Linked DNA regions of Homo sapiens. The protein of the gene in region 5 interacts with the protein of the main gene of each other region in a pairwise test. Each region holds a gene or a part of one and is shown on either strand. Other genes may lie near its edges. The genes, in order: RNF6, CCDC102B, CINP, EMC2, CCDC33, MAPK9 and DGCR6.

The links.
Region 1: the proteins of CCDC33 (region 5) and RNF6 interact in a two-hybrid assay, tested with the Homo sapiens proteins (one large-scale study listed by BioGRID).
Region 2: the proteins of CCDC33 (region 5) and CCDC102B interact in a two-hybrid assay, tested with the Homo sapiens proteins (2 studies listed by BioGRID).
Region 3: the proteins of CCDC33 (region 5) and CINP interact in a two-hybrid assay, tested with the Homo sapiens proteins (one large-scale study listed by BioGRID).
Region 4: the proteins of CCDC33 (region 5) and EMC2 interact in a two-hybrid assay, tested with the Homo sapiens proteins (one large-scale study listed by BioGRID).
Region 6: the proteins of CCDC33 (region 5) and MAPK9 interact in a two-hybrid assay, tested with the Homo sapiens proteins (one large-scale study listed by BioGRID).
Region 7: the proteins of CCDC33 (region 5) and DGCR6 interact in a two-hybrid assay, tested with the Homo sapiens proteins (one large-scale study listed by BioGRID).

Annotation. Positions count from the first base shown.
Region 1 is NC_000013.11:26,215,263-26,219,615, forward strand, and holds part of RNF6 (E3 ubiquitin-protein ligase RNF6), read right to left. Parts: coding exon 4,195-4,353; intron 3,345-4,194; coding exon 3,249-3,344; intron 331-3,248; coding exon 1-330. UniProt on the Homo sapiens protein: E3 ubiquitin-protein ligase mediating 'Lys-48'-linked polyubiquitination of LIMK1 and its subsequent targeting to the proteasome for degradation. Negatively regulates axonal outgrowth through regulation of the LIMK1 turnover.
Region 2 is NC_000018.10:68,803,986-68,808,338, reverse strand, and holds part of CCDC102B (coiled-coil domain-containing protein 102B), read right to left. Parts: intron 1-4,353. UniProt on the Homo sapiens protein: During interphase, forms fibers at the proximal ends of centrioles to maintain centrosome cohesion. During mitosis, dissociates from the centrosome following phosphorylation to allow centrosome separation. Contributes to CROCC/rootletin filament formation.
Region 3 is NC_000014.9:102,350,117-102,353,523, reverse strand, and holds part of CINP (cyclin-dependent kinase 2-interacting protein), read left to right. Parts: intron 1-3,407. UniProt on the Homo sapiens protein: Component of the DNA replication complex, which interacts with two kinases, CDK2 and CDC7, thereby providing a functional and physical link between CDK2 and CDC7 during firing of the origins of replication.
Region 4 is NC_000008.11:108,474,226-108,478,578, reverse strand, and holds part of EMC2 (ER membrane protein complex subunit 2), read right to left. Parts: intron 2,698-4,353; coding exon 2,616-2,697; intron 1,798-2,615; coding exon 1,687-1,797; intron 1-1,686. UniProt on the Homo sapiens protein: Part of the endoplasmic reticulum membrane protein complex (EMC) that enables the energy-independent insertion into endoplasmic reticulum membranes of newly synthesized membrane proteins.
Region 5 is NC_000015.10:74,267,031-74,271,383, reverse strand, and holds part of CCDC33 (coiled-coil domain-containing protein 33), read right to left. Parts: intron 3,043-4,353; coding exon 2,926-3,042; intron 1-2,925.
Region 6 is NC_000005.10:180,232,595-180,236,947, forward strand, and holds the end of MAPK9 (mitogen-activated protein kinase 9), read right to left. Parts: intron 3,938-4,353; coding exon of another isoform or gene 3,933-3,937; coding exon 3,790-3,932; 3' UTR 549-3,789; downstream 1-548. UniProt on the Homo sapiens protein: Serine/threonine-protein kinase involved in various processes such as cell proliferation, differentiation, migration, transformation and programmed cell death.
Region 7 is NC_000022.11:18,908,732-18,912,853, forward strand, and holds the end of DGCR6 (protein DGCR6), read left to right. Parts: intron 1-1,248; coding exon of another isoform or gene 1,249-1,367; intron 1,368-1,440; coding exon 1,441-1,541; intron 1,542-2,156; coding exon 2,157-2,297; intron 2,298-2,808; coding exon 2,809-2,958; 3' UTR 2,959-3,357; downstream 3,358-4,122. UniProt on the Homo sapiens protein: May play a role in neural crest cell migration into the third and fourth pharyngeal pouches.

The DNA.
Region 1 (4,353 bases), on a different chromosome or scaffold from region 5:
CATTGAAATTCACTGAGGTTTGGCTTCTTGTTCGCCTAGCCACAGGACTAGTTGACCTTTGTTGCCTATTTGCAGTATGATCTCTGTTACTATCTGAAAGTGGAATGTCTGTATAATCTTCTCCATGAATTTCAAATCCTCTATTTTCATGATTTACGTGGATTTCCAAACTAAACCGAAACTCTCCATTGTTCGGGTTTGTTCGACTCACAGCTCTCCAAGTTTGGTTCCCATTTTGTCCACTTCGAGTTGCATTTCCTGTGCGCCGAAAGGTGTTCAACCATTCTAGAAGAGAATCTTCATGTGAACTTTCTCTAGGGACTTCTGAGTCTAGAAAGCAAAGCAAATCAACTTAAGATCAATTCCTAAGACACACCTTACAGCTTTATTGAAAACTTGTAAGAAAAACAAAGTTTGTAATAAATTAAAGAACATCTGTGGATTTTAATGAATGAAAGATGGCAAAAAGACAACTTTCTAAAAGAAAAGTATATCTACTATAAGCATATTATAAAAATTAAATTACTATTTACATAGTTACAAAGCTTTAAATACTATTTATGCAACGCTATGGAGAAATCCTCATTCTTACTTTCTATCTGCCCATTACTAGCAAAATACTAAGGCAAATGAGAAACATGTCCACTACCAAAAGTTTACATTTAAATTGCTTTATCAATATAGTAATATCAATAAAATACAAAGACAAACTTTATGTAAAATTTGTCCTGTATTTGTGGAATCTTTCTGGAAAAGCCAACTCAGTCATTTTTGCAACTAGGTATTTCTGTAATCTTAGAAATTTTTCCTATTTCTCAGGTGCTGCCAAAAATGTACACATCAAGAAATGTGAGTTTCTGAATATAACATTAAAACCACATTACTGTATTTGTCTTTGTGTGAAGCTGAGAAACCAGGCAAGTTACTTAAGGTCTCTATGGCTGATCCTTGTCTATAAACTGGAGTTAATAATAGAATCAATCTCATAGGGTTATCCTGAGGATAAAATAAGACGCTATATATAACATAATTAGCATAATATCTGGCACATAAAAAGCCACCCCATAAATGTTAGCTGTTATACATAATAAAATACATTTTCTATTCATTTAGAACGTAAGCTCCAGGAAAACAAAGATTTTTGTAGTTTTAGTCACTGTTACATCTCCAGCCTCTACAGCAGTATCTAGTATAAATCAGACTTTCAATTAATATTGCTCAATTAATCAATTTAGAAATGTGTCACCCATAAACTTTTTTGACTAAGATACTGCCACTGTGCCAAGCTTAAATTTTCCATTTATAACCAGTAGATATTATATAAAGTACAAAACTTAATAAAAAGCATCAACACATTAACTACACAAACTTCAACTTTAAAGTTTGTTCTACTCAAAAATAGCTATTATAGGCCGGGCGCGGTGGCTCACACCTGTAATCCCAGCACTTTGGGAGGCCAAGGCAGGCAGATCATGAAGTCAGGAGTTCGAGACCAGCCTGACTGACATGGTAAAAACCTGTCTCTCCTAAAAATACAAAGAAATTAGCCAGGCATGGTGGCGTGCGCCTGTAATCCCAGCTACTCAGGAGGCTGAGGCAGGAGAATTGCTTGAACCCGGGAGGCAGAGGTTGCAGTGAGCCAAGATTGTGCCACTGTACTACAGCCTGGGTGACAGAACAGGACTCTGTCTCAAAAAATAAATAAACAAATAAATAAAATAGCTATTATATGACATCATTCTGATTTCATTTCATTCCTGCAATCTCTCTCGTAAGACTTTTTTAAATGCTGAAGTTGAAGCTATTAATCAGCTGTTGATGCCAATAAAATAAACAGCAACTGAGCCATATTCCAGAGATGATGAGCTATTTTATATTTGATGAGTACATTTTCCACTGAAACATATTCAAAAGATCAGTATTAATTATTGCATCTATATAGTACAACTTACATATCTAAACACAAATAATAAAATGTGTTAATGTCCACTTCCCATTTGTTTGGAAAAAGAATGAGTAAAAGGCAGGTGAACATGAATTATTTTAAATGCTACTTCCTTCTTTGATTAACATTTGATTAAGTGTAGTGATGATGGTGCATGTGAAAGAGTTTGCCAAGTACCTACTCAAAGCTACCCTACTCTTCTTCCATTGTAAAAGCATCGGAAATTGGCTCGTGGACAGCCTGGCAGTTAGGTGTGACCATGAGACTAAGTTCTCATGAATGGAATGGGAGAGTAAGCGATACATCCTACTCTCACGCTAGTGCGTGGACCTCCTTCCTACCAGCTAGAACCTAGATATGGTTGCGACTTACCTTGATCATACAAATGGTACCCTGGAGCAGTGATGCCCCATAAATCTTTCTGAAGTAATGAGTATGTTCTGTATTTGTGCTGTCCAATACAGAAGCCACTAGCCAAATGTGACTATTAAGCACCTGAATGTGGCTAGTATGAATGAGCTAAATTTTAAATTTAATTTGATTTTAATTAATTTCCATTTAAATAGTCACATGTGGCTAGCAGCTACTGTACTGAACAGCACAGTTGTAGAATCATTCTGTTAGCTGAGTGGGTTCCAAGAGGATTTCCTTCCCTGGACTGTTAACGTAAGTAAGAAACTTCTAGCTTATTGAGCCATTGCATTTTGGGGTTTTTACATAGACTTCATGGTAACTAATACAATGATTTTGATATAATATGTGAAACTACTAATAAATACCTCTGAGGAGGGAAGTAGAACTGGTTAAGAGGAACACAAAAGTGGCTTTTCCTTTTAACTCTACATACTTCATTTAGTTTGAAGTTCTTTTATAGTACTTTCCTTATAAGAACTTTTTATATGTAAACCATCAAACAGAACAAAGAAACAAAAACAGGTTTCCTAACTCAGTCTTTCTACACGGTTCTGTATATAAATTTTTAGAAGCTAAGTAATATCACTTTAGAAAAAGTAATGTGTACATTCCAAGATTAAAAAGAAGCATGCTGGGAATTAACTTAATTGTATATTATTACATAAAGCTCTCTGAAGGCAATCTGTGTGTTTAAGACATCTTTGCATTCATTCCTCTGTCCTATACTGCTTAACCATACTGCTTTACTACTCATATATATATTATCTGAATGAGTATCACATTAAAACTGGAAAAAATTGAAGACAAACATACTATACAAGGTCTAAGAATTTCATTTCTGCAAGTGCTCCAATCAAGCCTGTTCCTTATGGAAAGGACTCCATAGTACCTCTGTAATTCGTTCCATCTCTCAAGTCAGGCTGAGATGCTAGTTGTTCCTTGACGCCATCTAACCGCTGTTGCAGTTCTTCTGATGTTATTTCTCCTAAAACAATGAAAAACTGCTCATTTAAGAATTCTGAATTAAGTTTTATGAGACCTCATGAAGGGTAAGACTAATCTTTAGTAACCTATAGAAGACAAATGTCTTATTACTTTCATATGTTCTGTAAATTGAAGACAGTTAAAAATATTCAACTGGTACAAATGTGCATCAATTCGGTTGTGCTTCATTTATTAATCTTTTATTAAAAATTATTAAAATAAGATTTAATTTGAATAGTTGGTAAAGTGCTGCCAGTTGATACACTTAGGAATCTATAAGCTATAACTGTGGATTTTTGTCAGTTAAAAAGAAATTAAGGGAGCATTTATAGAGAAAACTTCAAATATTTACTTGAATTTTATCCCAAATACTTCATTATATGGGTCATCAATATACAAACACACAATATATAAACATACAAATTTCCATTAGTTCATTTGTAAAAACTTTATGGAACACATTGGGCTTTGGGGGGAGCTATTAATTCAGCTGAATAAATAAATTATAATACCCCAAATGAGTTCAAATTGGGTTTTAAGTCATATTTTATTTGTATAAAAATTACAAATAGGACCATATATGTAAATACTTAACACCATTATGTACATTAACCTGTTTCTTAGTTTGGCATTTGTATAATAGTGCTCCATGTCCCCTATTTTCACCTTATAAAATACAGAAGCCAGTGATTTTCTACTTTATTATACTAAAAAGTTCTTAAACTCACAAAAACAATATACTATATTTTCATAAAGAGAAGCAAGGAAAAAGAATACCAATTCTCCTTATCTTGAAATCCTTCCATCTAAATGATGAAAAAAGGGTGTTTCCTCTTTTACCCATCTCTTACCAGGGGTGCCTAAAAGATTATGGTCTCTCATAAGCCGATAATCTTCATCATTGAGTTCATTAATAAACTGATAATAGGCCTCTTCTCTGTGGAGACGCTCTTGCTGCCATCTTCTCTCATTTTCATGATGATTATGGTCTTGAGGTAAGGTTTCTTCAC
Region 2 (4,353 bases), on a different chromosome or scaffold from region 5:
TGACAAAATGCTGACTTCTTTGTCCTGGCCACTGTAATCTGATTTGTAGAATTATTATATTTATATGAACTCTTCTAAGATAAAAATAATATCCATCACATGTTTTGTTCTAATTCTTTCCATCTTAATATAATATAAAACAAGTAATCCAATTTTAGATATGTTACTTGAAAAACAAAATAGAATGGTTGTGCAATATGTAAGCTACTTCTTATAATAGTGAGATCCAAAATGTTGATTTCACTGGGAAAGTTACATCTATAATATGAAACTTATAGATGAGTTTGTAATCTTGAGAAGGAAAAGACGTGGAATCTTAAGAAAAAAAAGTTAGCTTTTGATTCGAAGATTAGTTGCTCAAATCCTAGTGAAACGTTCATCCCTGCTCATATTTTCTCCATGTTAGCCAAAATAAATTAGTAATTTATTCAGACATAGAGGCCACCAACTCTGCAATCATCTTTTTTTTTAAGTGTTTATATTTCTGGTTTTCATCCTTTGACATAGGAGAAGGTAGCAATAAAGAAAATAAAAAATTTAACTAGAAAGTAGAATCCTTAACACAACTGCTGATTGATCTGGGATCCGTTTTCATTTGTTTCCTTTCATTTTTGCATAGTTGTTTGTCTTAGTAAAGACAAGTAAAGGAATTGGATTAAAAATGTCAAAATAACAGGAAGTGAATACTCAGTGTTTGTATTTCTCAAAAGATCTGTCTTTCCAGTCCCTAAAACAGAAAATGGACGCCATGTGCAAGGAAAGCTGCAAAGAGTGGAAGACCAGATTAAACTCTTACATTTCTCAAAGCTTGCTTGGTTTTTATTTTGCCTCCCAATCATGTAATTATTGTCTTCAACTCTTTCCCAAGTAATTCCTGTAACGTCATATCTTAATTCTTCCTCAAAAACTCTATTTTTTCCTTGTTTTTCTTAAATATCTCATGATTTCCCAGATCTATACATTGCATTTAATTTATAAAAAAAGAGAAAAAGTACTAAGAATTGTGTGGACTCCTAAATTGAGTTTTATCATTTTTATCATTGCCTGATTTTCACACCTGTTAAATTTTCTTAAATTAGTAAATTTTCTTAAATTATAGCAAGCAGAGAATATATTGGTCCCAGTTGTTTCTAGAGGCCACCATCTTTAACATACTTCTCAGTATCAAAATAACATAAGTATGTAAATATGATAACATGAGAGCTATAGTAGAACCCAGAGAACACTGGTTCAGAAAATGTGAGGTAAATTCTCTTCCTTGATAAGGTCGTTCAAACTCATATGTGTTCCCCCTTTCAACAAGGAGATAAATACAATGCCTGAAATGTATTCTATGGTTGCTATGAAGATATTTTTGAACCGTTTATATTCTGGAGTATTAAACCTGTGCTGTCTTAAATGGTAGTCACCTATCAGATGTAGTTAGGGAACGCTTGAAATGAGGGTCGCCTGAATTGTGATGTTCGGTGAGTACTAATTAAACACAGCATGAAACGTAAAAATGTAAACTATCTCATTAATAACTTCATACTAATTACATTTTGAAGTGATATTTTTGAAAGATTGGATTAAATCAAAAATATTATTAAAATTAATTTCACATGTTCATTTTTTAACTTTTTAAATGTAGCTACTTTAAATTGCAAATGTTGCTTGAATTATATTTCTATTGGACAAAATAGCTGTAGAGCATCCAATAGACTTTAAGAGCTTCTCTTTTTCCACAGAGAATTTTACAGAAATAGAAAACTGCATTCTGATTTTTTTCAAACATGTTCAGAATGTTTTGGCAATATTGCTGTCTCTAACACCTAGAGGTTTCCTAAATACAGGAAATTAAGATAATTACTAATAATATTACTTGCAAATATATGCTTGAAAAACATATTCTACTGATAATAAAAATGCATACCAAAGTAGCCTGCTATTCAAAGGTAAGTGAATGTGACATTCTCATTCTCTTCCACATGGCCACATAATACAGAAGAGGTGATGTTGCAATAATCATACAAAAATAAAATGAATATCATTTTAAAAATTGGATATGTTTGCTGAGCATTCTTATCTAAGCTTTGAGACATCCCATTAAAATATATTTAAAGCTGTTTAGACAACATGGGAAAAAATAATTATTAATTTTAAAAATGTATGTCATTGTTAAAACAGCAGTTGTAAATAAAAACCTAAAAATAATATTAATTCATGTGTTCTTAACATTATTAATACATATAATTTTATTTTTATCCAAAATTTTGGCAAAATGATAAACACATAAAAAAATTATGGGCTTGTAATCTGCTGTATTTGAAGGCTTCTTTGTCTTGCTTTGATCACTGGCTGAAGATTGCTCTTTAATACAGTCTGTAGGACTGATCAAAATGTTACATAAGCAGAGAGAAAAGTAAATGAGATCACTGACAACACTGTAGAGTCTTGGCATGGGAATGGGTATTAACATTTATATAATGAAACCAATTATGTTAATAGGTTAGGAGAAGTTGAATATGTTTTCAGGGACAAGAAAAATTTTCATGTCCAAAGTATTTCATATATAGTGTCGTTACAACATCCTCACCTCTCAGTTCCTATTAATTCCAATAATATGACCTCACCCACTCACTGGCTGGTTATGCACCTAGATCCCATTACCATACTAGCATTTCTTTCCATATCAATGATAAGCACCTCTCTGATTACCCTTTACTATTGTCCCCATAACTCTCTTTTTTGACCTAGCTATGGCCTCCTGTCAATGGACTGTATTGTTTTTTCTCTCTTCCTCATCGGCTTCACATCCACTCTCTCCTCCCTATTCTGTGCTCCAGTTTTAACAAATTGCTCTGAGCAAGCTTGGCATTCTCTTGACCCTACTTGCTTAGAAACTCTAATGTCAGTGAATCACAGCTGTCTTCCTGCTCCATGTCTGCACCTACACTCTTGATCAGGCTTTGAGAAAACACACCCATTGCTATCTGGTCTCACTTCAGTTTCTTGACTCTGAACCTCATATGGGCTTTAATGTAGCCAAGCCAACTCTACCATAGGGAAATTAATATTTTTCCCTGATTAAATCACAAACATTCTACTGAATAATCCCATACATTAGCTATCTTCAAAATTTTCATATCTTATTCAGCTCTGCCTTATCTGTTGAGATTGCGGGGGTTTTTCTATTTCACTTACAAAAGATATGTAATTATAAGACAACTGCCATCCACTGGTTCCATCATATCTATGTGTCTAATGGATACCCATATGTTATTCTGTCTGTTTTTATAGAGAATTACTCCACGTTCTTAACACCAAACTTCCCATTTGTATGCTCTATCTAATTTCCTCTAATCCGCTCCAGGACATGGCCTCCTCAAATATACTCCTCTCCTGTTTAACTAGTTTGTACCTCTCTCTAGATTAGATTATTCCCATTAGCAAATGCACATGCTATAATACCCTCAACATAAAAAAAAAAAAAAAGATTTTGATCCCAACCCAGCAGCCATTCCATATCTTTGGCATTTTCTAAAATAAAAATTATTTTAAAGACACTTTCATTTATCTCATTTTCTCTTGAAGTCGCAGTATCATTTTCAACTCTAGTTTGCCACAAAAACAGGAAATCAGTGACTTCTACATTGCAAATCTAATGGTCAATTCCAGGCCTGAAATTCCTGTTTTACTTGGCCAACCAGAAGCCCTGTATGTGATTGTCCATTTCATCATTCCCTTTCTTGGCTTCTGAGGGCATCCTCTCTCATGGTTCTCCTCCTACTCCCTGGTAGCTGCCCCACATTCTGTCTCAGCTTCACACCTCTGACTGCAAGCGCTCCAACACTGAGACTTCAGGCTGGGGTAATTGCTCTGGGTGAAGGCATCCAGGCCTTTGACTTCAAATTCATTAATTTTCTGAAATTTCCTAACAGACATATCTCTGGCCTGAGATGTTCCTTTATCTCTGGGATCTCACGTGTCCAGCTGCCCACTTAACATCACTAAGGATATCTAATCAGCATCTCAGATTTCACATGTTCAAAAACAAACACTTGAACTCCCCTCACATCTACACCTGCTCCTCCACAGTGTTCCCTGTGTCAATAAATGCACATTTCACTCTTCTAGGTTTACAGACCAAACTTAGGGGTTACCCTTGATTCCTTTGTCTCTTCATTGCACATCATTGTTGGAAACTCCATCAGTTCTGGCAGGAAAATATGAAATACAGCCTATGCAGAATTACAAAAACTCCATCTCTAATATCTCCTTCAAACCACCCTGTCTCTTGCCTGGAATACTGTATGGTATCTGGCCTCCCCACTTCTACCTTTTCCCTACTCCAGTATGTTCTCCACAGCACAG
Region 3 (3,407 bases), on a different chromosome or scaffold from region 5:
ACTGTCATCAGGACTTTTCTTTGGGTCCCACCTATTGCCCGGGCTGGTCTCAAACTCCTGGGCTCAAGCAGTGCTCCCACCTCAGCCTCCCAAAGTGCTGGGATTCCAGGCGTGAGCCACTGTGCACAGCCAGGACTTTCCACTGCTGAAGTTGACCTTGATCACCTGGCTGGGCAGTGTTTCCAGGTTCCTCTGCTGTGACGTTGCTCTTTCTCCTCCTCCCACGCTGTGCTCTTTGGCAGGAAGTCACTATGCATAGCCCACACCTGGGGGTAGGGACGTATTCACCACCTGCTTGAGGGTGCAGTATCTACATAAATTATTTGGAATTATTCTGCGTGGGAGATTTGTTCCCTCCCTCCCATTTGTTAATTTTTTTTTTTTTTGAGATGGAGTTTCACTCTTGTTGCCCAGGCTGGAGTGCAGTGGGGTGATCTCTGCCCACTGCAACCTCTGCCTCCTGGGTTCAAGTGATTCTCCTGTCTCAGCTTCCCAAGTAGCTGGGATTACAGGTGCCTGCCACCACACCCAGCTAATTGTTGTATTTTTATTTGTTTTTTTTTAATTTTTGTTTTGGCCAGGCGCAGTGGCTCATGCCTGTAATCCCAGCACTCTAGGAGGCCGAGGCAGGTGGATCACCTGAGGTCAAGAGTTTGAGACCAGCATGGCCAACATAGTGAAACCCCATCTCTACTAAAAATACAAAAAATTAGCTGGGGGTGGTGGCAGGTGCCTGCAATCCCAGCTACTTGGGAGGCTGAGGCGGGAGAATCACTTTCGGAGGTTGCAGTTAGCCGAGATCAAGCCACTGCACTCCAGTCTGGGCCACAGAGTGAGACTCCGTGTCAAAAAAAAGAAAAAAAGAAAAAGAAAAGTGGTTTGGGAATAAGTTCTCATTCTATGTTCAAAACCAAAAGTTGATTTTATAGGGTATTATTATTTTTCCTATTTTCCTCTATCCGTTATAGAGAATGGTTTCCAGACCTGGTCTGTGTCTTTCATAACTTTGACCTTCTGGGGGTTTCATGCACCGTTCTTCCTAAGCTGGGCTAACATTTCACTGTGGTCTGTGTTTGCTGTGGGAAGAAGCCACCGATGTTGAAATGTAAGGGCCTGCTGTTTATGCACTGTTCATTCAGGGCTGCACGTGCCTATGTGACTTGAATTCTTTATTGATGGCTGAGCTGCAGGATTGAGCATGACTTCTTGCCTGGGGTCAAGGCTCCAGAATTTTCCTTAGTCTCCTGTTATCAGCTTTTCTTAGAATCAGGTGGCACCAGGGAGCTGCTGCAGGACTCACAGGAAAGAGCAGAGGATTGGGTGTTAAAACTTGGTGTCGGCTGGGCGCGGTGGCTCACGCCTGGAATCCCAACACTTTGGGAGGCTGAGGTGGGCGGATCACAAGGTCAGGAGATCGAGACCATCCTGGCTAACACAGTGAAACCCCAGCTCTGCTAAAAGTACCAAAAAAATTAGCCAGGCACAGTGGCGGGCGCCTGTAGTCCCAGCTACTTGGGAGGCTGAGGCAGGAGAATGGCATGAACCCGGGAGGCGGAGGTTGCAGTGAGCGGAGATCGCGCCACTGCACTCCAGCCTGGGTGACAAAGCGAGACTCTGTCTCAAAAAAAACAAAAACAAAAACAAAAACAAAAAAACTTGGTGTCAGAAGGCATGGTATCGAGTTCTGGCCTCATCCTTCCTCAGCTCAACCTTAAGCAATTTCCCAGCTGTGAAACGGAAATGACAAGTCCTGCCTCTTGGGGTTGGGCCAAATAAAATATCAAACCTTAAAAGATTTGGGAAACTACTTAAGTAAAGTCCTTTAAAAATTAACGTTAGCTGAATTTAGTGCTTGCCACTTCCAATGTAATTGGAGGGTGGTTGGAAGGACCAAGTAAAGGAATTAAGATATTTGACAATTTATATATCTTTTCTTATTTCCCCTTTTTCATATTTATGTATGTAAAGTCAACTATACTTAGGAGTTCAAAATTTGGTCTTTATAGACCTATGCTACTTAAATCTGAAATCCTAGTTACTTCACCCATTAATTTTCTTTATCCAACCCTTATATATCTCCAAGTAGGTGCTTCACAAATACTAACTCACTTAATCCTCTTCACCAAGCTGTGAAAGTAAGCCCGCCATTGCCCCTATTCTGTGCTGCCTGGTGTGTGCAGTGGGGTTGGTTTAGTGTCTCCCACAAGTAGCCATACACATCATGCAGTTACAGGGCTTAGGACAGAGCCTGGTCCACACTGAGGGACCGTCAATGGCAGCTTGCCACGTTTCCTTCCTTTCTGCGTGAAGTGTGTAGGGCTCCCTTTCTGTGTTGCCATTTTATAAACAAGGAAGTCAAGGAGGTTTCCGTAAATAAAGGCAGTTAATAAGAGAGAGTCAGGCCTGGTGCGGTGTCTCATGCCTAGAATCCCAGCACTTTGGGCGGCCGAGGTGGGCGGATCACGAGTTCAGGAGATCAAGACCAGCCTGGCCAACATGGTGAAACCCCGTCTCTACTAAAAATACACAAATTAGCTGGGCGTGGTGGCACATGCCTGCAATCCCAGCTACTTGGGAGGCTGAGGCAGGAGAATCGCTTGAACCAGGGAATCAGAGGTTGTAGTGAACCGAGATCTCGCCACTGCACTCCAGCCTGGCACTGCACTCCAGCTTGGCAACAGAGCAAGACTCCGTCTCAAAAAAAAAAAAAAAAAAGAGAGAGAGAGAGAACATCAGAAACGAGCTCATTTGATAGAGAGACAGAGAGCCTCAGAAACGAGCTCATTTGATAAAAGAGAGAGAGAGAGAGCATCAGAAACGAGCTCATTTGATGCCTTTCTCTCTCACTTCTTAAAAGCAGCAAGAGCCAGCCAGGCGCGGTGGCGCATGCCTGTATAATCCCAGCACTTTGGGAGGCTGAGGCGGGAGGATTGCTGGAGCCCAGGAGTTAGAGACCAGCCTGGGCAACATAACGAGACCCTGTCTCCACAAATTAAAAAAAATTAGCTGGGTGTGGTGGTGCACACCTGTGATCCCAGCTACTTGGGAGGCTGAGGTGCCAGCGGTTGAGGCTGCATAAGGCATGATCATGCCACACAGAATGAGACCCTGTCGCAAAAAAAAAAAGAAAAAAAAAAAAAGGCAGCAAGAGCCTGCCTTGGGATTCCTCCAGGTCTTTGGGTCTAAGACATTAATGCTGTTTGGAAATCCTAGTGAAATGGCACTCGGAAACCTTTCTTGCTCTAGGACTGGAAATCTGGGGTTTATTACCAAAGTCATTCAAATTAATGAAATCATAGCAACTGTCCACCTTCATCTCCCTGGGAATTTGCTGTACGTAGAGTTAACAGTGTTTAGTTATTGGAATTTTTATCATAATAGACTTACACTTCTTAGCTTTGAAATCT
Region 4 (4,353 bases), on a different chromosome or scaffold from region 5:
AAAGGAAACTCAAAAATAATTTAGCCTGACATCCTACATTAATAGGTTAAAGAAATTTAAGTCCAATAAGAGAGATTTAACTTGACCAAAGCAAAATAATGGGTCTTCGAAATAAAGAAGATCCTTATCTCTAATCCATTTCTCTTTTCACTATACCATGAGTTTTCAAACTGTGTTTCAGAGAACTAATTAGTCCCTGCAATTTGATCCACCCTCTCCTTTTTAAAAATGTATTTAAATGAGCGGTTCTTAATCTGGGATCTGTGAAAGAATCCATAAAACCCCAAAATCATATGCTAATTATTAAATGTATATATTACTGTGAAGAGTAAGATATAACTTGATTCCTATTCTTAAATATATTTTACTCTTAAAAGAATATGACCATGTGATTCAAAAAAAGGTTAAGCCTTTGTTTTATGCCAGCCTGTGCTATAGGCTCTTTCACCTATGTCTCCCTCTCTGCCAGTGAAGAATCTATATCCCCAAATCTGATTTTTATACCTCTATGACTTTAATGTTACCTTCTTCTTATGAATTTTAGCAGATGCAGTGGTTACGAGAAAAACTCTGGAGTTAACTTCCTGGGCTGGAAACCCAACTCGATCATTTAGGAGCTCTGTGCCCATCTTTGGGCAAATTAATTAAATCTGTGTCTCAGTTTCACCACCTGAGGATAGTATTGAGAGCACCTACTCAAACAGTTGATGTGCGGATTTATTGATTTAAAATAAAAAACAGAGCTCAGAACAATGCCCAGCACATGAAGTGCCATGTATAAGCTATTATTAATTTGTTGTATATTAGTTTTTAAAATTAGTATTTATTTGATACAGAGATACTTCTACTATAGCGTATTTTCAAGCCATTGCAATTGGCTTTGCTAAAATCCAGGAAAATTTTCTTGAAATTCATTTGAACCACCTTCTAACCATATTTTGCCATTCCTTTTTAAAAATTGTTTCATTTTTGTTTCTTCCTATTTCCATTTCTTCACTCAGTTCCTTTTCACTGAGCTGCAACAAGAAGACACTCATCAAGAAGTCAAAGGAACAGGATAAATAAAATATTAAAGTTTATTTCTCCCAGCGTTTCTTATTGTAGGGAGGTGCTCACTTTATATATATGTTTTAAAGGTCAGCAGATTATTCCTCTATTTCCCACAGCTCTTATTAATTGACTTTTCTAAGCTCAGCATTTGGCATACCTAAACAATAGGTCATTACATACTTCCCACAATTTCCAAACTGTTTTTCTACACCATAAAAAATGTTTTAATTTGATGTATTAGGGATTTGATTTCTAATGTATTTTATTGGCACTGTTTAAAAATACCTCATACAACTATAATTTAGGGAAGAAATACAATAATGTTGGGCATAAACCCAAGAATATCAAAACAAGAAATCATGTTTTCTTCCTATCTGTCACTATTTAATTTTATAAGGGCAGATTTCAATTCTGATATAAAAGATAGTTTACAAAAAAAGAATGTCAAACAGCTAGGCTGTGTTAACATTCAAAAAGAAAACTGGCTCACAAGCTATTGCTCAGAATTAATTACAGAAAAAAACATGCTTATCAATAAAATACAAAAAACAGGAGAGGAGTGATTGAAGGGGATAGTTAAATGGATTTTAAGTGACAGATTTTTAAAAATAACATTAAACATGCACCTCAACTCACCATATAAAGTCCAAACAAAGCTCTCATATTTCTGTTGTTCAGTTTCAATGCCTGTGCAAAATACTTTCTTGAAAGTTCGAGGTTTTCAAGTCCACCTTGGGTATACTTAACCTGTTAAAAATTGCAAAGTGCTGAAAACTGTTTATTTTACTACTTTGAAATATAGCATGGTTTCATCATACCATAGGCATTCAGTAATCGAAACAGATATTCTCTGTAAACAAATACAAGATGTTAAAAGAATTCACCTAAAGGTTTTTAAAGCTAATCTAAAATTTCAAACATAACCTTCCCCAAAAAAGCTATTCTATTCTATGAACATTGAGATGACTGAGTAGTTTCTAAAACAAAAATGCTGCCGCAATAAAAAGCCAGAATAATTTCTATTTCAGCTGCCTCGCAAATGCTTCACCTCACATTGTATTTTCTATTACTGGCATTATAAATGTGGACTTAAATATTGAATTGTCCTTTTATAATCTGCATGGACATTCTTTAATAATGAAGTCCTTCTAGCCTTATAGCATTCAGTTGTACTGCTATTCTTAATAATATGCAAATTAAATAAATACTTATGTCCCAATTGGCTTTAATACAAATTTCCCAGAATATGGATTTAACAATCATAATCACTATAAATGTCTCACAAGCCATTAAGTGGTGACAAATGTGATATAACTTATAATTAGGAAAGAAAATAGTATACAAATATAAAAATACAAGGAATTTCACTGTTTTAAGTATGTCTTAAGTCAGTATTACCACTGCAATGTTAAAAATTTTAAACTTTTATTCCCACAATTCAATGCTCATCAGATGTTTTAAATATTTATATACTTGCTTAACATCAAGGAAATATTCTTAGTTCCATAATAACACCGAATAGTAACCAAAATAAAATTATATGCCATTGTTCTGAAAACACTTACTTCAGCATACTGCTGACAGTATAAGTGGTTGTGTGGATTAGTCATCATTAGTTCCTCTAAACAAAAGGCTGCTTTTGCATAGCTAAAAACACATCAAGAGGAGAAATTAATTTTTAAAGTCACAAATTTTTATCTTAGTTAAACCTTGAAATAATTTAAAAACAACTTTAGTCATGTTAAACAATTTATTCCCAATATAATTTACATAGCTTTATTAATAAAGTATTTGTCATCTGAAATTCATAAATATCAATGACATTAAATTTTATCATGAAATTAATAAACACAGGCTTAAATCTTAAAGCAGCCTGCAAACAATCAATAGATACTACATTTCAAAAACTGGGTCACTCCTACTACATCCCATCACTACTAATAAGAAGGGCTTCAAGACCTTGGATCAAGCTGTATATAAAACAACTTCTGGAAGTTGACTGATCATTTAAAAAAATATTCAAACAGCTAATGTGTAAGGAGAAAATAAACATTTTATTAAATATTCTCTACTCACTAAAAATTCTTCACAGGCATATATTTACCAACATATTCTATTACAAAGATTTCTCTCATTACTTAAGTTCACTGTCAAATACCAAATTATAATGAAGTTATAAATTTCTAAGCCCATGAAAAACAGATCAAGTTGGTTTTGATATATACTGTACTATTATTTAATCTTGTGGTAGAATAAACAAAAATCTTGCTGAAAACCTAAGGAAAGAGAACTGCCAGAAAGAGCTCTGGAAAAACATTTTAAAGCATGTGACTGTAATTCACTAAATATATTTTAAACGTTTAATGCCATGTGACTATCCTCACTATCTACAGGAAATTCTAATGAACACAGGTGTTACAAGATTTCTTCCCAGTGAGGAAGTGATGACACTACCCAACAAAAAGAGGCTACCTAAAGTTATTTTTGGCATTTACCAGTATACAAAGGGATCTACCTTTACACTACTGCCTGATATACTTTTAAAAATTATTTTCCTGTTTCACACATGTATACTAATAATAGCTTTTACTAAATGCTTATTACGTGTCATGCATTGTTCTAAATGTGTTACATGTATTAACTCATTTAATCCTACCAAAACCCTAGGAAGAAGGAAATTATTATCAACATGCTAGAGCTGAGAATACTGAGGCACAGAGATGTAAACTGAATCCCAGGCTGTGCCACTCCAGACAGCCTGTACTCTTCAACCACTACATATGCTGCTTATATGCATTACACATCACATTGAAAAACTGAAGATGTCAATGGTAACATGAAAATGTGTACAGCAGTCACACCCAAAGGGACTGAGGAAAAAAAATACACCCTGCAGATTACCTAATAATTACAGCATTTTAGATTTATGAAGGACCACATATATATATGTATGTGTGTGTGTGTGTGTGTGTGTACTCTCATCCAAGATCATGCAGCTATTTAGCCCTTTCCATTTTTAAATTCAAAACCTAGCATTGGTTCTTGACACATGATAGGTATTTAATAAGACTGAACAAATGATTGAATAAATGTCTAAAACAAATGTGTTATGACTACCTACCTAATATATATTTATCACTCGAAAAGAAAAGGGAAAATTTGTCTCTACCTTAAACACTTTATCAAAAGACAGTTCTCTTCTAAATGTGTTCCTTTAATTATTAATAGTATGATGCCAAAAATTCATATTGAGACTAAGAATAAAAGTTCTTAGACATTTAAATGGGTTGAGCACAACTGTGA
Region 5 (4,353 bases):
GTTCTAACCTCGGCCCCTCCACTGGCTCCTGGGGAGGGGTTGGGCTAGGGGTAGGGCTAGGTGTTCCAGCTCCTTGGTTTCTGTCAGTCAAATGAGGCTCCTCCCAGGGCTGTGAGGGGTCTCTGATTAGATCGTTTGTGAGAGAGCACTTTATAAACTGAAGACAGGAAGCCCAGGTCTGGTTTCTCCGACCATGCTGAACTTCCTGAGATCAGCGGCCACAGCCAGGCTCCCCTTGCCTCCCTCGTGCCCATCACCCTGGTGCCTGCTCCACTGCTCACCCTGGTGCCTGCTCTCCTGCCTTGCTGGTTTCCCCAGGAAGTACTGGTTTGGAACAGGATCATAGCATCCGCATCTCTGGGCTCCTCTTTCTTCATCAGATCCCGGTTGTCACTCCCCTGACCGCCCTTGGTTGTTCCCTCCTCAGTCCTCTGTCACCCCCTAAAGGCTTCCCTGCCTCCCAGTCCTGACTGCCCTCTCCTCTACTCCAGGCTTCTATTGGCGCAGCTTTCAGAGAGCCGAGCGGGGTCCCAGCAGGAGGTTACAAAGCAGGAGTGGACAGCGTCACCTTGCTCCAACCCTCACTGACCCCCTGCTCAGTCTGGGCCTGGGGGACACTGGAAGGCAGACAGGGGAGACAGGGAGTCTGTCCCCATGCGCCTCTGCTGCCAGCCTAAGAGGCCCTGATCTCCCGGACCCTGACCCTCACCCTGTATCCACCAATGGCTCCCACTCTCCCTCAGCCCTCACCCACCTCCCACTCGGCTCTCATTCCTCTTGCTCCTTCGATTCCTCTGCCTCCTCACTAGCCTCTCCACTTCTGTTCCTTTCCCTAATCCATCCTCTTTCCCAGGCAATTTGACACATGATGGCAAAAGTGCTCTTGTTAAAAATGAACTGGGTCACGTTATTCCCTGCCCGACACCCCACAAGCCCCTCTGCCGTGTCTCCCGACAGGCCCCCAGCCCCTGTCTTCTTGCTCCAGACTCTTTTACTCCTGCCACTTACCCCTCTTATTTCTGCCACAGGGTCTTTGCACATGCTGATCCCTCTACTCAGACTCCCTGCAGCTCCCACCAACCCATTGTGGCTGGCGAGGGCCCAGGAGTGAGGCTTGTTCTGGATCATTCTCCCTTTTCTCCCTCCGCACCCTCCTTTCAGGCTCCTCTTTCAATACCCATCTCAGCTGGTTTTCCCACCTCTAACCCCACACAGGTGTGAGCTGATGGGCACGTACAATAGTCCTTAGGGCCTCGCAGCTCTCACTGAGGGCTCTGGAGACTGAATCCCTTCATCACATTCAAAGGATTGAATCTCTGATGGTACATTTCACACTTTGGATGGGTCTGGGGTCTGGGGCTGAGGGATTTCACTGGAGGCTGGCAGGCCCTATTGCTCACAGGCTCCCCAGCAGGTGTAAGACTAAAAAGGGGGTGGTGGCAGCTAATTTGCACCTGTTCTGTGTGGACTCTGATCAGGTGTGAATGAGACAGCTGCCCAAGTACACCTGCTCATGACAGCCTGGGAAGTAGCAGAAGTTCCTGCTCCTGCCATGCGCTCACCATCAGGAGCAGGCAGCTGCTCTGTGGCCATACCTGTCGCACGGATGGAGAGGGCATCTGTGCTGGGGCAGGAGAGTGGGCAGGGTGCTGTGAGCCAGAGAAGGCCCCTACTCTACCGCTCTACCAGGCAAGTCAGAGGGCTGGGTGGGGTGGGGCAGCTCCACAGCAGCCCTAAAGTTCTGCCTGTGTCTTGGGGATGTGGCCTCCTCCCTGTGGGGTGCGGCCTGGGGACAGCAAGGCCAGGCTGTTGCCCCTCTTCCTTGTTCTGTGTGTGTGTGAATTGCTGGCTGTCCTCAGGAAAGGGCGTGATAGAAGGTGGCGGGGAGCAGAGGGCGCCTGTAGGTCTGATATGCTGGCATCAGAGGGGTGGCTGTAGGGGAGTAGAAATGTGGGTTAGGAGTTTTGGCTCCCATACCATACTCCCCTTGGGTCTCAGTGTCCCTGGCTGTGAAAGAAGGCAAAAGAATGCTTCCTTCCCTGCCAGGCCCACGGTGCTGGTGGGAAGTAGGGGGGTGGGAAGGATAGGAACAGATCAGCCATGTTTGGGTAGGTGGAAGCTCAGAGCTTGGGTCCTGTGGCTCCCACCCTGATCATACTCAGGCCATAGCTGAATTTGAATCTGTCACCCATGGGCAGTTTGAAAGTTGGGGGGAATGGGAGAGGGGCCAGGTCCCTGCATCATGTCTGCTTTGAGCATCAAGAGTTCCTCCCAAAGCTGCTAATTGGCCTAGGGGGTGGATGGTGATGGGTCAAGGGGCAGTGGCCAGGCCCAAGGTGGGCTCAGCCCTGTCCTGGCTAATGGAAGAGGCTCTGTAAACAGTTGCTGGATGAATAAATGAATGAATAAACTAAATACCTAATCGCCAGACCAGTCAAACCTCTTTAGACACAGTGCTGAAGGAAAGCTCAAGGAGGCCCTAAACTTTTGCTTGGGGGCCAAGGCACTATCCCAGGAGGGGAAGAATAGAGCAGGAAACTGCTGGGCTGTGGGCTCAGGGGGAGCACGGGGCTTCTCCCCTGCCCCTAGCATAAGATTCGGGGAGACAGGCTCTGGTCCCCACTGCAGCACAGAGACGGTACACCAGGAGCAGCAGTGTGGCTGAGCCCCTCCCCGCCACCTCCAAGACAGAGAGGGAAGGAGAAGAGGCTTGAGCATCTTCATCCTTGTCATCCCTGCCAAAGGGCTTGTCTTCACAACTCCTTTTGCTATTTTGGAAAGGCCTGGTTGCTTTTTCCATTCTTGACATCTCTGCTCCACACCCTCAGGTCAGCCAGAGGGGGCTAAGGGCAAGGCGTGGGGCCTGCTCAAAGCTTGGCCCTTTCCCACCCCCACCACCACCCCAGAGGGCCCCAGCCCTGGTACCTCCAGAGCCATGTGGTTGCAGCCGATGTAGCGGGGTATGAAGCTGCTCTTCCGAACGACTGTTGCGTACAACTGGGTCTTGGCAGTGGCTTCATCGGCTTTCCCAGACTCAGTGGGCTGGAGACAGGGTTGGGGCAGAAGACACAGAGGAAGGAGAGTGTCTAAGGGGCAGATCCTGGCCATAAATCCAGCCCTCTGCAGACAATCACTTGGCATTGCTCCGCTGGGGCTCCGAGCTGATAATTAAAGCTCATGGTCCCTGTGAGCCCTTCCAAGGAGATCAATATAATAAATCTTCCCTTTTCCATTTGAATATTTCATCACCCTCACAAGGACCACTGCCTGTCTGCTTTCCAGTAAAGATGTGATAACAAGGCCTGGGTTGTAAGTGAACAGACAGCCAGGGGGCCTGGGTGATGCCCCCAGAATTACAGCTCAAGTGCTGAGTCTCCCAGGGTGAGTAGCACATCTCTCTTTTACTTCCCTGCATGGCCCATCCTGAAGCCCTGGGATTGGGGTTCCTCATGGGGCCTAAGAGAAGGTAAAGCCCCCTGGTGCCATGATTGAAGAAATGCTTAGAAGAAAGTTCAGTGCTGGCCCGGAGGAGGGATGGGGGAGGGTAACTGACCAAACTGAGCACCTACTGTATGCCAGGAACCTTGCCTATCATTGCTTGAGATCCTCAAAACGACTGTGCCAGCTTTGCCAGTGAGGATGGAGGCCTGGGGACCAAGTGGCTTCCATGGGTATCCAGCTAGGAGGCAACAAACTTGGTCTAGGACCCCCGACAGTCTGGCTTCACATTGTTCTTTACTCTCAACCACTTTCAGGGTCTGGAATGCACAGTGGGGAGGGGAATGTGATGCTTCTGTTCATCTCTGGCTCACTACCTGGCACATAGTAGGTGCTTCATAAGTCCTTGAGCAATGAGAGAGTGAATTCTACCCCTTACCCTTCAGCACTAGGAGGGAGGACAGGCAGGGGTCTGGCCTGGGAGGCCCAACCTTGGAGTGAGGAGCCTCAGGCCCCTCAGTCCATGGCTTGGACCCAGTTGCTCACTCCAGGGGTGCATTCCAGGGAATGCTTTATTCCATGTACCCCCCAACTCTCCTGGGCCTTCTGGCCAAGGCAGCATGTGGAGGCAGCTCAGAAGGAACTGGCTTGGGAGACAGCATGACTTGGGCTCACCCTCAACTCTGCCGCTCACTTGCTCTGTGACCCAGGAGGAGGAGATTTTTCTCCCCAGGTCCCAGTCCCATGTCTGCAAAATGTAATTTACCTTGAGGATTAGAGAGGGGGTGTGAAATGTCTAGCACAGGGCGTGCAAGCAGCGGGTACTCGGTAAATATTGTGTTTCTTTGATTTTTAGATCCGCTCTTTTAACATTTTTGTAATCAAAATCTATCTTTAATTGGTATATTCATTTAA
Region 6 (4,353 bases), on a different chromosome or scaffold from region 5:
CCACCTATGTGTATTACTTCAGTCAATAAATAAAAAGCATTTCAGTGCTGTCTACAGTGAAAGAGGGAAGAGGGAATAGGACAGAGAAATGGAACCCAGACCCAGACCCCAGTATCTCAAGAAACATCTTCCTTCTTTCAAGACCTTTGAAAACACAACTGGGCCGGGCGCGGCGGCTCACGCCTGTAATCCCAGCACTTTGGGACGCCGAGGCAGGCGGATCACGAGGTCAGGAGATCGAGACCATCCTGGCTAACACGGTGAAACCCCATCTCTACTAAAAATACAAAAAATTAGCCGGGTGTGGTGGCGGGCACCTGTAGTCCCAGCTACTCCGGAGGCTGAGGCAGGAGAATGGCGTGAACCCGGGAGGCGGAGCTTGCAGTGAGCCGAGATAGTGCCACTGCACTCCAGCCTGGGAGACAGAGTGAGACTCCGTCTTAAACACACACACACACACACACACACACACACACACACAGCTGGTACTCATCTCTCTGGAATGCTTCTAGTCCTTTTAAGCAGAGAAAAGAAAGTGAGCCACTGAGTGTCCTTCCACTCCTGTGGTATTAAGTACTAAACAGCCTGAAGTGCTTCAAACACAGACGTCAGATGAACTTGGCTCATCCCAGGCACAAAGCCACAAGCACCATGAATGACGTTAAGTAACATGACTAAGGCTGACTGGTGAATTCTCCTGGCCACGCCTCATGAGAAAACAATTACACCAATACTCTGAATTGGACCTGCATATTGGTGAAGTCAAAACTTACTGCCATTAGTTTTGAAAACACAGATTTAGGAATTTGCAGAATATTTTCAATAAGAGAACAAACAGCAATGTTTCTGCCTCTCAGTGTGAAACCTCTTGCTAATATTGATCAAAAGCATGACACTTTATCATCTATCTGTGTTCATGTTAAATCTGTCATCAGAGATGGTGATGGAGAAATATCTAATTGCCATGTAAAAACACACAAAAATTGGACATGCTATACATTTATCTTTTAAAATGTAGTCTGTATTATTTTCACCAACCAAAACACACATAATATATTTTATTATAAAACATTAGCAATGTTACTTTTGAGATATGCAATCTGAAAGGTCACACTTGTATTTATTACCAGGAGGAAATACCAGAGGAGTCACATTAGAAATCAACCAGACAGACTCGTACGTGGTTATCGCTACTTACACAGCATTAAATGCGGGTTGAAGCAGCACCCGCTCCGTGTTTCAGACACGGACTTGGGGTGGGCAAGGGGCCCTGTAAGAGGGCTTCCTCCTCTCAGTACTGGGGCTCTGCGTCTCACCTGCTCCCATCTCCAGGCCCACGGCTGACACGGTATGCACAGCCAGGGTTTCCAGACTGCTCTCCTGCTCTCACAGAACTCTGTCTGCTCTCTGGACTCTGCCCTTGAAACTGAGACCTGGACATGGGGGAGACAGTCGTTTCCTTCTTGGCTGGAAACTAAGTCAACAAATGAAACAAACCTAGTCTAAATTCCAGGATAATAGTAAATTACCTGGTTTATAAAAATACATGTCCAAAATAGTTACTTCCTGGGTTGTGTACAATATAAATTACAAAAATAAAATAGAAAAGATGAAACAGTTGAGCACATTTTTCAGTTCTTTAACCAACATCAGCATTTATCCATAGAGATCAGTTTGAAACCATTTGCGTGGCACCAAGACCCTGGCAAATCTAGGCTCAGGAGAGAGAACCCTGAAGCTGGGGTGAGGTATTTCTGTGGAGCCCTGTGGCCTGTCCTAGGCACGCTCGCCTCTACCTGGTGGAAGATGGCCTTTCCAGGAAACCCTCCACACCGTCACGGGCTCCATCTGTGGCAAGTGGCTCGCTGAATGCACAGAGGAGCGAGTGAGCAGAAGGGCGTCTGCGGGTGCCTCGTCCCCCGTCCACGTCTCCCGGGGAGGGAGCATCACACAGTGCAGGGCAGCTCGCGCATTTTCAACCTCTCCCTTTTGTTTTTCCTTTTAAAGATAGATTTAGTGAAGTCTTTTAAAAGAAAGTGTATTACAGAGAAGGCCATTTTAAGATGTTTAGATAGATAGCCATAAAATAGGTGTTTCCGCCTCAATCCAAGTTATTATTACCATTTTGTACTTGAAAGTGTCCAAATGACACAATATAAAAGAACTATTTCTTATTTCAATATTAATTTTGCTAATCAAAGGTTCCAGTTTCCAGTGATATGACCAACCAATAAGATATAACTGGTGCAGAGAGAGCCATATATTTTACATAATATTTATAATAAACTTTCTTATCACAGTTCCTCCTCAGAACACACTCTACAGAATGTCGACTGAAAAGCTTCCAAAATAATTGAACACAAGATATGAATCAGCAACAGAATAAGCTCAAGGGAAGAGACATGGGCACAGGCAGGCAAAACGTGATCACCACAGCTCCGTTCCTGCAGTGACACTTAACATACTCAGCATCTTCATGAATTCTGAATAATTTACTGATCGTAAAGTCTAAAAGTATCAATTTCAGGTGAGCAGTTTTAAATCAGAAAATAGTCAATAGTTAATCATGACTCTTCAGGGTATTTCCTTCACGTCCTCTGAAGAGTTTCCCAGAACATTCTTGTGAAAAGGAATGCCTCCCAACAATGGAGAGCAACAATAGCAACAGGCATCTGAATCAGCCTGGCCTCTGAAAACAGACCAAAGAGGAGTTTATCTGCTTTCTTCCAGTGAAGAAAGAAAATCAAGAACGTGGTATTGGCCGAGGGAAAGTGAATGAGGGAAGGTAAATAAAGGACCCAGGCCAGTCTGTGGCAAAGGAAGCACTTAGGAAATGACTGCAGTGATCTCTAGTGAGCATTTTGTAAAATTCCACTCCAACGTTAGGCCATGGATGCAGGAACCTATCTGCCATCATATTTAATTAAGATGGAGTGTTACGCACCTAATAAAGAAGGTGAAGTTCTAGGTAGCATTTTAAATTCATAAGAAGTCTAGAAGACCAAGAAGAAAAGAGATAAGGTAGCTAGGATTTCAAGCAGCACTAAGCAAAACTTAAAATTGTATCGTGCAGTAAAGCTGAATGTACAATCATCCCAGACAAGACAGTTTAAAGAAAACAAGATGTCCACATAAGTGTCTTGGTTTTAGCCGTGATAATTCTCAGCCCCAAACATCACAAATCTAAGAAAAGCTATATATTTTTATTTATTAAATAGATTTAATTATATGTCTTCTGAAATACAAAAGATAGAATAAATCATAGCATAAAAGGGAATAAGATATGATAACATCATGATGGCCAATTAATACACATAAATCGACTTTTTCTGGACAGACACCAAATTACTTAAGAGGATTAAGAGATAACTTCAGAAGCAGCACTACCTGGAAGATTATTTGGCATTTAAATACTGATTTCCAAAGTGCTAGATGGGCAAGTCCAAGCAAGCATTTGTGGTCACATGCACATACATCTCAACAGTTACAGATGATGAGAAACTGTCACTAGTACAATTTGAAACAAATTCACCTACTCTAACTGCTCACCTGAAATGATCTTGAACAAAATCTCTAGAAGTGTGGCTTGCAATTTTTTTCTTCAGACATATTCTGCCTCATTTTATCATCTAAGCAGGCAATCCTATCAGGTCTGAGTAGGGCAAGGCATTGTGTTTCTTACATGCAGAACATGGAGTTTTTCTATTTGGTTCCATCAACTCCCAAGCATTTCAGGCCCACGGAGGTGAGAGTTCCTTCAATGCTGACAGGTTTGCTATTTCTAACCTATCATCGACAGCCTTCAAGGGGTCCCGTCGAGGCATCAAGACTGCTGTCTGTGTCTGAGGCCAGCGTCTGCTCAGTGGACATGGATGAAATGTCATTGATCGATGAAGACTGAGAAGGAGTGGCGTTGCTACTTACTGCTGCATCTGTGCTAAGAAAACCAAATATAATAAAATCTGAGGCACGACATTGCTGCAAATCCAGGCAGCGAGACTGCAGGCCATTTCTCGGCTCTGTCCTTTTGCAGTTTCCCAATCCTAACTATGAGTATAGACAAGAAGTCAGTCAGCTGGACTTTCTGAACTTTTCCTTGAGTCTTTCTTTGGGCCAAGAGTCCCATATTCCTATGTCTTTCCTTGCAAGATTCTTCTTTTTTTCTCAGTAGCTAAACATATATGTGGCCATGTATAATCATGTTAGCTACTTAAAAAATACCTGCTGCTTTCAAGCAGACATCAAAAGGACACAGCTATATTTATCTGAAAATGCAGTATCACAAAAGCTTAAGCCTGACTAGGATTCCAGTGTCACCAGACACTTGAATTGTAACAATTTATAACATAAACA
Region 7 (4,122 bases), on a different chromosome or scaffold from region 5:
TCTCAGTCCTGGAATCGGCCATTTTTCCACAGAGTTGTAGTTCTTTCTAGCAGGATGGGGAGTTTCAGTAACTGCCTGGGCCCAATGCTGTTTGTGCTTCAGAAGGTTTGGGCCAGGTCCTGGTTCCACCAGCAGCAGGCATGCCTGCGTTGACTTTCTGCTTCTCCTGCTGATTTGGCAGGGGTGACTGGCTGCTCCTGCCTCCTTTGTGTTCCCGGTCGTGTCTAAGGCCAGGCCCCTTCTGCCCAGGCAGCCGGCGTGGCTCTCTTCTTGCCTTTTGGTTGCATATCTAGTGGAATCTCGTAGTGGACCTGGCACTTGTAGCAATGTTTGATCAGTAGAGTGAAGATGATGACATTTCCCTGCTTCCCTGTGTTATGGAGCTGTCTTGAGGGGGGCTTTTGGTAAATACCATCGTCGAGGTGTGTACAGAATGCCAAGAAACAGGAGATTGGGGAAGGCTGTAGGCACAGCTGGAGCCAGGCTACCTGCAGGGGAGCCTCAGGGGCCGTGGAGTTCCCTGGAGACTTGCCACCAGAGAAGAGCTGCAACATCAGGGCTCTTCCCAGGAACAGAGTGTTGGATTTCACGTTTTGTTGTGGCCAGGGACCCCTCCTTCCTGGGGAACTGTAGCCATTTGGCACTTAATGCACTGGCGCCAGCTGCGGGGTGCTCCATGTTCCATTTTGCCATGATGGTTTATGTCCCATGATCGCTTCCTCTGTACACTCCCTTCAGACTAGAGTTTGCACATCTGTGTTTGTGCACAGTTTAGCAGGGACCGTGGAGCTTTGCTTGGTGGCCGAGGGTGAGCCCCTCAAAGCCACACAGACTCCCTGGCCCAGAGCCTCACAGGCTTATGACACCCCAGGTTCATCCCAAACTTGGGCCTCCCAGGTCAGCTCACCCTTCTCCCTCTGGTGCTGTGTAGGGGCTGGGAGCTGCAAATGGGGGAGGGGGCTGCCCACCCTGAAGGGCAGCACCAAGGGTGGAGGGGCCAACCACACACCTGGTAGGCAGAGGCCCCACGCTCAGGGTCAGCGACCCGGCTCCTCCTGCTCCTTTCCCATGCCTTTGCCTGAGGTGGTCTCCAACACTTGAGTAGATGTCCTATGGCCTGTGGCCACGGGGGCCCTGAAGCCCTCAGACTGCAGCCTCCCTCCCGCCTGCCCCCTCCAGCTGCCCTGGGTCTGGGGCTGCAGCTTTGGCCCCACCTGGCCAGTCTTCCCCACCCCCACTCTCTTTCAGTGCCCCGCACCTTCTGGAATCCCCTGGAGACTTGCCGTGACAGTGGGGTGGGAGGATGGAGGAGGCTGGCGTCCTCCCCAGTGCAGACACCCCTTTGGCCTGGCTGCTCTGCTGGGTTGGTAAGGCAGGTGCCCATGGGTGAGGGCTGCTGCCGAGTCCCACCGCCTGCTGACGGGCTCTCATCCCTCCCAGTGCTCAGGCAGGCGCTGCGGCAGAAGCACCAGGAAGCCCAGCAGGCCTGCCGGCCCCATAACCTGCCTGTGCTTCAGGCGGCTCAGCAGCGAGAACTAGAGGTACTGGGGACGCAGGCAGGGTGGCCGGCCCAGCTCTCCTGTGGGCACCACCTGGCTCTGCTGACTGGGCTGAGCTGAAGGGGTGTGGGGGGCTCAGGTGTGGGTGGCTACCCTGGGCCTGAGTGGGACACTGGAGGCCTAGTGAGTCCCACCAGGTGGCTCCTCGCTGAGGGTGCCAGGTGTGCTGGGACTGGGTGGAGGGTGAGAACCCACCAGTGCTCCCCTGGAGTCCATTAGTGCCCCTCGTGGGTTGGGGTCTCCGCAGAGCAGGTGGCCTCGGGGGGTACAAAGGCAATGGTGGGGTGATGGGGCCAGCCAGGAAGGGGCCCATCCTTCTCCCCGGGAGCACAGGGACAACCAGAGACCGGCATGTAACCAACAAGTCATGGGGCAGGGTGTGCCTGCGGAGATGTGTGTGTGGTCCCAAGGCAGTCCCAAGTCAAAGCATTCGTGGAAGCCCCTTGGGGCCCCCTTCAGGGGTTCACTTGGCCGAGGAGAGGCCTGGGTGTGGTGAGGATGCATTGGTGGTGTCAGAGCTGGTGCTGTTGGGGACAGCAGCAGGAGCATGTGTTTGAGCTGCCCTCACCTCCCCCGCCGCCCCCGGCCCCACGGCAGGCGGTGGAGCACCGGATCCGTGAGGAGCAGCGGGCGATGGACCAGAAGATCGTCCTGGAGCTGGACCGGAAGGTGGCTGACCAGCAGAGCACACTGGAGAAGGCGGGGGTGGCTGGCTTCTACGTGACCACCAACCCACAGGTCAGTGCCTGGGCCTGCTCTGTCCTAGCCCGAGTGCCCCTGGGCCCCATTCCATCTGGGATTTCACTGCTGGTCCCTGGGGAGCCAGGCTCAGGGTATAGGGGGTGAAGTGGAAGGATTGAGGCTCTGGAAAGGATTTCTGTGCCATTCCCAGCATGGAGGCCAGGCCCATTCCCTACAGGGGGGTGAGCCAGCCAGCCATGGGCACTGCCCACCCTCCCCAGGCCTGCTGTGCCCCACAGGGCCCTCTTCTGCTCCCCTCCCGCATGCCATTCCAAGTGGCCCTGCTGGGTGCAGAGGCTCAGATTCCGAGTGGCCCTGCTGGGGGCAGAGGCTCAGATTCCGAGTGGCCCTGCTGGGGGCAGAAGCTCAGATTCCACCCTGTCGTAGCAGGCCATGACCAGGCTTCACAGGATGGTCGCCCCGTGGGCTCACTGCCTGGCACCTTTGGGCCGGGATGAAAGGGGCCTGGGGGTCACTCTGGCCTTCATGGGGCCCCTCTGTATCCCAGGAGCTGATGCTGCAGATGAACCTGCTGGAACTCATCCGGAAGCTGCAGCAGAGGGGCTGCTGGGCAGGGAAGGCAGCCCTGGGGCTAGGAGGTCCCTGGCAGTTGCCTGCTGCCCAGTGTGACCAGAAAGGCAGCCCTGTCCCACCATAGCCACAGGCAGCAGAAGTCTGGGCAGAGTTCATCTTCTTGACCTTTGGCCACTGCCTTCCCAGCTGCCCGCAGGGGGTTCCCCCTGCTGAGGAGAGACCAGGTGGACCCCAGCTGCCTGTCACCCTTCATCTGGGACTTGCTGTCAAACCCTAGGATAGTCTCATAAAGGGGAGGCTGGGCCAGCCTGCTGCTGTCTGCTTCAGGGCCAGGCAGAGAGTGAGGCTGGGGGTTCTCACACCTTACTCCACCGGGCACATCCCAACCTGCACTGGGGCCCACTCGAGCGCTTGTTCTGGTCTCAGCCGCTCCCTTGGCAGCTGCAGCCCCCATGCAGAAGAGGCTCCCAGGCCCAAGCTCTGTGTGACCCAGAGAAATAAAGATGCCTCAGTGTGGCCCGCATGTGGCTTGTGTGATAGCTGCAGGTTCTGCCATAACCGGGGCCCTGGTAGGGCCCCCACCTCTGTTGCAGCAGAGGCCTCTACCTGGGGGCCCCTTCCTGGGCTGTGTGCCCAGCCCACCACCCCTCCCCCTGCCTGGAGACTGGGACCCTCCAGCCTTTCCTGCCCCAGCCCTGGTCCCAGGATGCTGTCACTGCCATCTGTACAGGGGCCCCCATCCAAGCCCCAGGGCATGAGGACCACATCCAGCCTGCTTTGTGGGGCTGGGGGCTGGAGAGCATGGGAGAAGGCCCGAAGTGCAAGTATGCGCCTGCCGCAGCCTGGTCAGTGTCCTGTGGGAACCACTAGGAGGAGCCTGATGCAGGTCACTGGGGTAGAGGACTCAGGGTGGCAGGAATGGCCTGAGGAGGAGCCCTGCGGGGAGGCGTGCCAGGCCCACCTGGGGAGCTTGGCCTCTGCATCTGCATGAGTCCCCTCCGTGCTGGCCTGGGCCCATGGGCCCTGCTGGGTCCTTGTGGAGTCAGGGTTGGGGGTGTCCAGCACCCTGGGTGGCCAGGTCTGCGCAGGGCCTGGCCCCCAGGAACAGATGATGCTGGAAGCCAGAGTCTGGGATGAGACTTCTCTGACCCTGTCTGAGCCACTCCCTCTTTGTTGCCCAGAGCTGACCCTGTGTGAGGGCAAAGGGCTCTCAGCTGCAGGAACAGTGGTTTATTGACCAGGCAGGCCTCCCCAGCCCGGCCACTGCTCCCCAAGGGGCTCGGGCTGT